Linked DNA regions of Homo sapiens. The protein of the gene in region 2 interacts with the protein of the main gene of each other region in a biochemical or structural test. Each region holds a gene or a part of one and is shown on either strand. Other genes may lie near its edges. The genes, in order: FBXW11, DAPK1 and DENND1C.

The links.
Region 1: the proteins of DAPK1 (region 2) and FBXW11 form a complex in vitro, tested with the Homo sapiens proteins (one large-scale study listed by BioGRID and IntAct).
Region 3: the proteins of DAPK1 (region 2) and DENND1C form a complex in vitro, tested with the Homo sapiens proteins (one large-scale study listed by BioGRID and IntAct).

The regions. Positions count from the first base shown.
Region 1 is NC_000005.10:171,861,037-171,863,785, forward strand, and holds the end of FBXW11 (F-box/WD repeat-containing protein 11), read right to left. Parts: 3' UTR 513-2,749; downstream 1-512.
Region 2 is NC_000009.12:87,706,471-87,709,263, reverse strand, and holds the end of DAPK1 (death-associated protein kinase 1), read right to left. Parts: coding exon 1,900-2,793; 3' UTR 630-1,899; downstream 1-629. UniProt on the Homo sapiens protein: Calcium/calmodulin-dependent serine/threonine kinase involved in multiple cellular signaling pathways that trigger cell survival, apoptosis, and autophagy.
Region 3 is NC_000019.10:6,479,588-6,483,346, forward strand, and holds the start of DENND1C (DENN domain-containing protein 1C), read right to left. Parts: upstream 2,201-3,759; 5' UTR 2,109-2,200; coding exon 2,092-2,108; exon of another isoform or gene 893-2,091; coding exon of another isoform or gene 465-892; coding exon 400-464; intron 316-399; coding exon 272-315; intron 132-271; coding exon 82-131; intron 1-81.

The DNA.
Region 1 (2,749 bases), on a different chromosome or scaffold from region 2:
CTACTGAATAGAATTTCTGAGTAGAATCCTACAGATACTAACTCGACTTTTTCTGCTTCAATACTCTACCAGTGACACACTTGCACACACAAAACTATTCATTTCTGATGCTATGGTGGAGAGGGCTGCGAAACTGCCCCTCACACCTCCATGGCCCTTCTTCAAGAAGGGGAGGATCCACTCACACCTGAAAGCCACTTGGGATGTCTCAGAGGCCATTTTCATGTTGACAGTAACTTGTGAAGCAATTAATTATGTGTGGGAAGCAGATTTGCAGGGCAAGAGTTCTTAGCTAGCCCTCAGCTAACTCCTGAAGTTCAAGCTAGCTTTCGGCAAAAGCCCAAGACAAGGAATCATATCATCTACTACAACATTCTCACACGCCAAAACCAGTTTGCCTTCAAACTCATTTTACAGAACAGATGATTCTAAAGATCTATAAATTTTAATTGTATGTCACTGAATTCCTAACAGCACTTAACAGTTTCTTTGAAAAATTTCTTAACAGAACGTCAGAGTATTGCAACACTTTATTAAGAGTATTGGCTTTGAATCAGTAGCTGAAGTAACAATTGCATGAAGCCAGATTAGGTGCACTGCATAATACCCATACTCGATTTATTGACATTACTTAGCAATTTACTGGACAAAAGTCAAACTTTTTTGTTTTTTATTAAGCACATTCCACAGTACAAAGCTGTCATGAATAATATCTGTACAATTTAACAGTTTCAATAGCTGTTCAGACACAAATTTATTTCAAACAGATAATTGGCAAACATAATTAATTACAAGTTAGAATTAGACTATCCCAGTGCTTTAAAACATTAATATAGCAGTAATTTACATTTGCTCAGTTATGGTTAGCAAAATAAAGTCCAGAGTATGGCTGGGAATTACTATTATAATCCCAGAAAGTCAGAACTCCTTGGGTGCCAAAGTCCCCTGCTATAATTTAGTAGGCACAATTCAAAGGTTGTCTGCATATTCAAAGGCCATCATCTCCCAAGGAACGAGGGGAACTTCTATATTAAACATGCAAAAACAACAAAAAATCCATTCATTCATTCAGAATTGCCTCCTCCCCTGCCCCCTCCCTTCCCCCTGGGCTTTCCTAACCAGTTTGATATTGAAGCTGTAGGATGAAAAGTGGTCAAAGCTAAATCACTTTCACAACCACCATCAAGCTTACAACATCCACCTTATGAATGGAGGTTTATTGTTTACACTTTGAGACTCAACCTCTCAAAAACATAAATTAATTTAGTAACATGGGAAGGAAGGATTTTATTTTTAAAAGAAAAACTAAAAAAGCAAAGCCAACTCAATAAACAAATCACATACACACACACTGATCCCCACACCGTTCTCAATGCAAAGGACAAATCAGAGCCCAGGGCCTTCCCTTTAGTAGTAGAGTGTGCTTCCACGGGAAGAGGTTTACTTTATAGGAGGCTGTTTATTGGTCCTTTAAAATGTTATTGACATTCCTTGATCTTTGGAAACAATGGCGAAGGGCAAATCAAACCTAATATTGAATAAGGGAGAAGGAGTGCCAATTGGATGCCAACGTCCTTTCCATGCACTGTCAGGGCAACAGTGCCATTTACACATTTGGGCTGTGTCGTAGGGAGGACTTGGGAGCTTTGAGAACCTGCTGGGGCCACAGCAGCAGCTGACACCAGAGATGACTGGGGTGGCATTCATGGGCTTGAGGCTTCACTCCACTTCAGAGCACCCACCCCTCAGCATGGGCCTCTGAACCAGCCTGACCTGCCCTGCAGGCTCCAACACACCAGCAGGCCCTGCCAGAACCTTGGCAAGGCCAGGATGCATGAATTCCAGAGCCAAGACAGCCCGTCAACAGGGCCTTCTTATTTCCCCTTCCCAGGGCCACGACTGCACAGAATAATGATTTTTGACAGCGAAGCCAAATGAATACTATGGGAGGTGACCACTTGTACTCAGGAGTACTTATGAGAAAAAGAATAAGAACAAAAAATGTTTAAGGTACCTCTCTATTGTATAATATATACTCCACAACAAATAAAACATTTTGGTGTTAAACCTTAGAAATTACATTTTAAAACAAGATTCTCATTAAAAACACACACAAACCACACACACGCAATGACAACAACAAAATAAAAACACTGTATGAATACTGCAGGAAGGGTTCTAGGTAATCCACATCAACCCAGGTATCAGGTTCTTGAGCCCAGCCCATGGCTAAGTGCGAACACACTCTGTATTAGTGTCTCAAGCACAGGGGGCCCTGACTCCAGCAACTTTGAGGTTAAACTGTTATGTACATTATATCTACATGCGAATACAGTATTTTAAATTAGGAGGCAAGCACACGTATAAAGGTGTTACTCTACCAAATATCAGGAGATGGTTGGGGGACAGAGAACAGTTAATAAAAGAAAGAGCTATATTACCTGTTGGTAGATAATATAACTGACTTATAGTTCTTTAAATTAAAAGAAATTGGTACAGAAAGGAAGTATAATCCCAAAAATATTACTAAAACAATCCAGAGAAAATTTTCCACTGTCCAACATGTTCCTAATACAACAAGTCAGAATTCATAATGACTTGGACGGTCAAAAGGAGAATGCTAACTTTTGAAAATGAAAGCCCTGGACATTCTGGGTAGGTGTTTGGCACCCAAAATTTCACTGAAGAAGAATGCTGTTTCTTAATATCAAACCAAAGTGCAAAGCAATATAAATTAGAGGCCAAGTCT
Region 2 (2,793 bases):
TTACCTGCCGCTATAGGAAGCAGTCTTTTGAAGCAGGAGAGAGTGAAGCCAACACTCAGGAAGGAGCTGAGACAAGAAAAGGAGTTTCCGCTCCTTAAGGCGACCACAGTTTCCCTTTCAGTCTCATCCTTTGTAGACACACCTATGTCTAGTTTTAATTTTATTCATCAGGACTTCTTTTCTCATTATGAAAGTTAATCATGTTTATTGTGGACAACTTGCTTGAAACATAAATGAACTATAAATGTAAGAAAGGCACGAAGGTCTTTTTGCTGTAGGTTTTCTCTTCCTCCTGGTGCCATCCCCATCATTTTTGTGTAGAAGTCGCAAAGCTTCCTCTGTTCCCTGTTGCCAAAACTAAAAGAGTCAGTTTGGTTTTTTGGTTCACCCGAGAAAAATCTAAGGGGCCTGTTTTATTTACAATGGGAAGAAATGTGAAAATTATCTGAACTCTTTTCACTTTCCCACACCATTCCTAATTTGAGTAATAATCGGCATCTCAATAACCCTGAGAGTTGAGGTGTAATGATTTTCTAGGTTTTGGACTGGGTTGTCCTGCTATGTGGGGTGACAACAGTAAAACCACAACAAGTAAAAAGAAATCCTTTTGAATTAAAGATCAAAAAAACTAATGCAACGAGCAACAGTTTATTTATAAAAAAAGAAAAAAACAAACAACTTTTTAACGACATTTTATAGATTAAGTAAAAATACCAGTATTAATATATATGTATATACATAGTGCATATATATATATACATATGATATAACATTAACATTACATGCTTCTCAGGACAGAAGAATTAGGACATGTTCCCTCCTATCAATTTAAAACTCGATCACAATTTAAAATCATGGAAGAAAACTTGCTTCCTTTATTTTCTGCTTTTAGACTTCAAGTACAGGAAGTTATGAAACCAGGATCTAAATGTGGAAACCATCTGCTATGCACCAATTATAAGGGACTGCCACAAATGATGAGTCAGGGGTCTTCTGAATTCTTACATAGGTCTCTGTAACCCTACAACTGTGTCAACCTTCTACCTGAGATGAGAGGGAATGATGAAGCATGACAGTGTGTAGGTTTCATGTGGACGTTCACATTGACATTGGAACAAAAGCAAACGGAAAAATGTCTTCCTAGAGCAACAACACTGATCATAAAATCACCCTGGAGGAGGATTCCCTTCTCCCCTTTCCTTGCCAAACAAAACAGAAAAACTGTCAGAAAACAATACAAAACAAAACTCAGGGTGAAGCACCTCTGGCGATGATCAGCATACAGCAAGGGACAGAGAGGTAGCGTTTCCTTGGTGACAGCTCCTGGCTGACTCCGATGATTTCAAACACACCCTCTTCTGCAAAAGGCACTCACATATTGTCTGTTTATAAATCATACAGTGGGATTCCATACATGGGAGTTTCTCCTACAAATATAAAAGAGATAAGCTGAGGAAATGGTATAACAAAGAAAAGCGTATAAGAAATACACATTTTGGATAAATATGCACTTTTCTTTTTTAAAGGACAATCAATATAGTAGTTAAAAAAAATGTCATTGAAAAGTTAGGAATTCCAGCAAAATTATCAGTAAGAAGCAAGGTACTGGAGGATGAGAGATGGAGTCCAAAACACTGAGAGGAGGTACACTAGCTTTTCAAGCGGCCAAAGTAAAAGATCTGTTCTGCTCTTAAACTGCAATGACCATCCACAGACAACGGAATGAGACGGGGAGGGAGGTAGCGGCAGAGAAACAGGTCAAGCCGGAGGGAGGAGTGGCATCCCCCTGGCTGTGGGTGCAGGAAGAAACACCCTCAGCATCTCCAAAGGGAAGGATGGGCTACATCACCCCCTTGCTTCTGCAGTCCAAACAGACCCTGCCCAAGCCAGAGGCTGCCCTCACCGGGATACAACAGAGCTAATGGAATTGTAAGAGGTGCCGCTGTTGCAGCTCGAGGCATAGGCCTCCTGGCCATTGCCATCCAGGTTGATTTTGAACACAGAGGATGCCTTCAGCAAAAAGTCTGCGGCATCCCGGCGACCCAGCTCCCTCAGTTTGGACATGAGGGTGCCCACTGTGCTCTCAGGGTAGGTGGTCCATTCCCGCAGCAGGGCGTGGAGGGGGCTGGGGAGGAAATCCTTGGGAGCCCCGTTACTGGTGTTGTACTTTGCCACGAGGTCAGGGAGGCCTAAGTTCATGGCGAGAAGGCACCAGTCCTTCCCCAGGGGGTCGGGCGGGTCCAGCAGGCGACTCAGTTTCCTCCGAGTGAGGAGGTTCAGGTCTGATGCATGGATGTCCATGCCGAGGCTGGCCTGTGAGTAGACGTCGTGACACCCGAAGCACATGATGCTGCTGAAGCTTTCCTTGTACCCCCCCATGGTGTTGGTCAGTGAGGTTTCCTTCAGAGTCTGTGCCCGGAAGAAGTCCCGTGGCTGGTAGATCATGACGGGCTCATGGTGCTCCCGCAGCTGCTGGGGGCTCAGGTAATGCTTCACGGTCAGGAGCCCTGGCAGCGTGGTGGCCATGACGTTCTCAATGGTGCTGCACACCGAGTCCAGCAGCAGGCAGCACTTGATCTTCTCCGTCTCCAGGCCGCGGACCTGGACCTCAATGCCCTGGCCGTGGTTGACCAGCAGCACCAGCAGCTCGGCCCCACGGTTGGCCAGCTTGCAGCCATTCACCCACAGGCGGATGTCCGCGTCGCCCTCTGTGCTTTGCTGGTGGATCCACCGGCACAGGTTCACCTGGACCTTGTGAAAGATGCCACATGGGAAGGGGGTGAGGTGTTCCAC
Region 3 (3,759 bases), on a different chromosome or scaffold from region 2:
CTGAGTCTCTAGGTGTTGAGTCCTTGGGGCCCCTGAGAGATCTGAGTCCCTGAGTCCTTGGATCTCCCCGCCCTTCCGTACCTTTCCACATCAAAAGGGAAGCAGAATTTAGGCACCATCTGCATAGCTTCCTGGAGGTGAAGAAAAGCGCAGACTGCTTGGCCACTGAGGTCGGGCACCACCTCCCTGGGCTCCAGGTCCAAGAAACCAAGTCCCCTCCCCCTGGGAGACTGGCCCTCGCCCTGGGGGAGCAAGGAGCCAGCCTGAATACCTGGTCCCTGAAGTCTGGAGGGAACTGCCGCAGGATGGGGGGATCTGTAGAAGAGAGCACGCCTCTAAGTTCAGCGACCCAGGCCCACCCTCCCCTCCCACTCCCTCACTCCCAGGCTCCCAACTCACCCTCCTGCAGGGAGGCAGGGCAGGCCGCTTCGAAGAACCAATCAAACACAGCAGGGGAGCCCCCTCTGTGGGATGCAGAAGGGGTCCAGAGACTTGCTTCTATGCATGTGTGGTTGTGTCTGCCACTTTGCACACAAGTGTGGTTGTGTGTGCATGTGCCACAAGGTGCGTCGGCATGTGCATGACTCTGGGGGTTTGTGGCTGTGAGTGTGTGGTTGTGTGAGGCTGTGTGTGCAGCAGTGTTAATTGAACACACAAGTACAGGATGGAGTGAGAAAGTGTGACTGTGTGTGTGTGGCTGTGTATGATTGTGTGTGGCTGAGTGCATGGCTTTTGTGAGCAGGCAGTGTGTGTGTGATCCTGTCTGCTGTCTGCCTGAAAAGATGAGACTGTCTCCTATATCTGTGGCATGAGACTGCACAGATATGAAGGACAGCCCGTGCAGTCCCAAGCTAAGTGAATTACATCTCTCTCTCTCTATATATATATCCATCTATCTGTCTGTCTGTCTGTCTCTGTCTATCCATCCATCCATCCATCCACCCACCCACCCACCTATCCATCCACCCACCCACCTATCTATCTATCTATCTATCTATCTATCTATCTATCTATCTATCTATCTATCTATTTTTTTGAGATGGAGTTTTGCTTTGTCACCCAGGCTGGAGTACAGTGGCACGATCTTGGCTCACTGCAACCTCCACCCCACAGGTTCAAGCGATTCTCCTGCCTCAGCCTCCCTGTAGCTGGGATTACAGGTGCCCGCCACCACGCCCAGCTAATTTTCATATTTTTAGTAGAGACAGGGTTTCACATACTGGCCAGGCTGTTCTCAAACTCCTGACCTCAGGTGATCTGCCCGCCTCAGCCTCCCAAATTGCTGGGATTACAGGCTTGAGTCACTGCATCTAGCCATGCCATCTATATTTTCTTGTATAGATGTGAGTGTGTGTGCCCGAGCAAGTGAATGACATCTATATTTTCCTGTACAGCTGTGAGTGTCACTGGGTAACCGCGTGGGATCCTTGTGGGCTGGCTGTGTGTCTCTGTGTGTGAGACCCCATAGAACCCTCGTGGCTGGTCCCACATGTCTCATCAGAGAAAGGAGGGCAGGATACCTAGGTACTTACTGTAAGCCCTGCAATCTCTGCTTTCCTCCTCTGCCCCCATATCAAGCAGAAGAGGCAGCCTTGGGCTCAAGGAGAGAGACAGGGAGATCTAGAGGGAGATCAGCTGCACACACACTGTCCCGCCCAGTTGCACACACAGTCCCCACCATGGGTACCCCAGCACTTCACCCTCACGCCGACACAAGTCACACACGATCACCCACTCATACCAACACCCAGCCTCCCCTCTGCCCTGATCATCCGCCCTGTGGACCCCCTGAAGCCATCACTCAGACATACCAAGGACAAAGCTCAGAGGGGTACATGCATTCACAGAGCTATAGACATAATCACAGGAGCTGGATAGAGAGAGAGAGAGAGAGAGAGAGGAGGGGACCGAGAGTGGCCTGTCCCAGAGTGAAGGTCATAGCGGAGGCCCATGGAGTATCTGATTCCAGCCACCTGCCCTGGCAGGTCACTGCACCTCCCGGGCCTGCTCCAGCCCCAGCTCCCCTCTGCCCCGGCTCAGGCCTGGCCCGGGAATCTTGTACCAGAGAATGAGGGATGGGGTGGCTCTTACTCAGCTCTGGATTCCATGGTCCCTGCAGGGCCAGCCCAGCGGGGCCCTCTCCCCAGGGGTCCTGGGGGCCTGTGTATGCTGGGCCCCAAGCCGGCTCAGCTTCCTGTGTGGCTGAGAGAGGAAGTTTAACGGGTGACGTCCCCGGACAGAGGCCCTGCCCCCACCCCCGTGAGAAACCCAGGCATCCTGCCTGCTAATTATGTTGGGGATGGGTGGGCAATAAGTGGTCAGCCTGGGAAGGCAGACCCCCAGCTCCGTCCCCGCCAGGCTGGACTGTGTCTGGTTCCCCCCATCGTGCCTGGGCCCTCATCTCTCCTTCCCCGCTCCGCAGCAGCCAAGATTCACAGTCTGTCTATTAATGAAATGCCTCCCCGTCTCTTTCCCTTGGTCCATTTGGCCTGGACGGTCACTGGTGGACCACCAGAGGGAGCCACCTGTAAAGTGGACGGTGGGGGGGCCAGGGATGGGGACAAAGAGCACGAAGTACAGGCACAGGGACGGACAGACAGACACAGACACAGACAGTTACACGCTCAGGAAGTCATCAGCACAGACAAACCGAGTGCAGAAGAGCCAGAGACGACAGACATGGAGAGATAGGGAGTCCTACAGCTGGATCATAGTCCCAGGCCGGGCACAGTGGCTCACGCCTATAATCCCAGCACTTTGAGAGGCCAAGGTGGGAGGACCGCTTGAGCCCAGGAGTTCGAGACCAGCCTGGGAAACATGGCGAAACCCTGTGTCTATAAAAGCTACAAAAATTATAGCTGGCGGTGGTGGCACGCACCTATAGTCCCAGCTTACCCAGGAGGCTGAGTCAGGAGGATCGCCTGAGCCTGGGGAGTTTGAGGCCATAGTGAACCAAGATTGCACTACTGTACTCCAGCCTGAGCAACAAAGTGAGATCCTGTCTCAAAAAAAAAAAAAAACAACTTAGTCACAGTTACACACCCATTGTGCGCAGAAAGACAAGGTAAGCGGATCACTTGAGGTCAGGAGTTTGCAACCAGCCTGGCCAACATGGTGAAACCCTGTCTCTAATTAAAAAAAAATACAGGCCAGGTGCGGTGGCTCACATCTGTAATCCCAGCACTTTGGGAGGCTGAGGCAGGTGGATCACGAGGTCAGGAGTTCGAGACCAGCCTGGCCAAGATGGTGAAACCCAGTCTCTACTAAAAATACAAAGATTAGCCAGGCACGGTGGTGGGCATCTGTAATCCCAGTTACTCAGGAGGCTGAGGCAGAATTATTTGAACCTGGGAGGCGGAGTTTGCAGTGAGCCGATATCGCGCCGCTGTACTCTAGCCTGGGCGACAGAGCAGGACTCTGTCTCAAAAAATCAAAAACAAACAAACAAACAAAAAATTAGCTGGGCATGGTGGCATGTGCCTGTAATCCCAGCTGCTTGGGAGGCTGAAGCAGGAGAATCACTTGAATCCGGGAGGCAGAGGTTGCAGTGAGCCGAGATCGTGCCACTGCACTCCAGCCTGGGTGAAAGAGTGAGACTCCATCTCAAAAACAAAAACAAAAACAAAGCAAACAAACAAACAAACAAATGCAGAGACAGACAGAGACACAATAAACAGTTACACAGAGACCACAGCCATTGATACAAACAGAATAACAGAGAAATAGACCCAGATAGATGGAAACACAGCACAGACATAG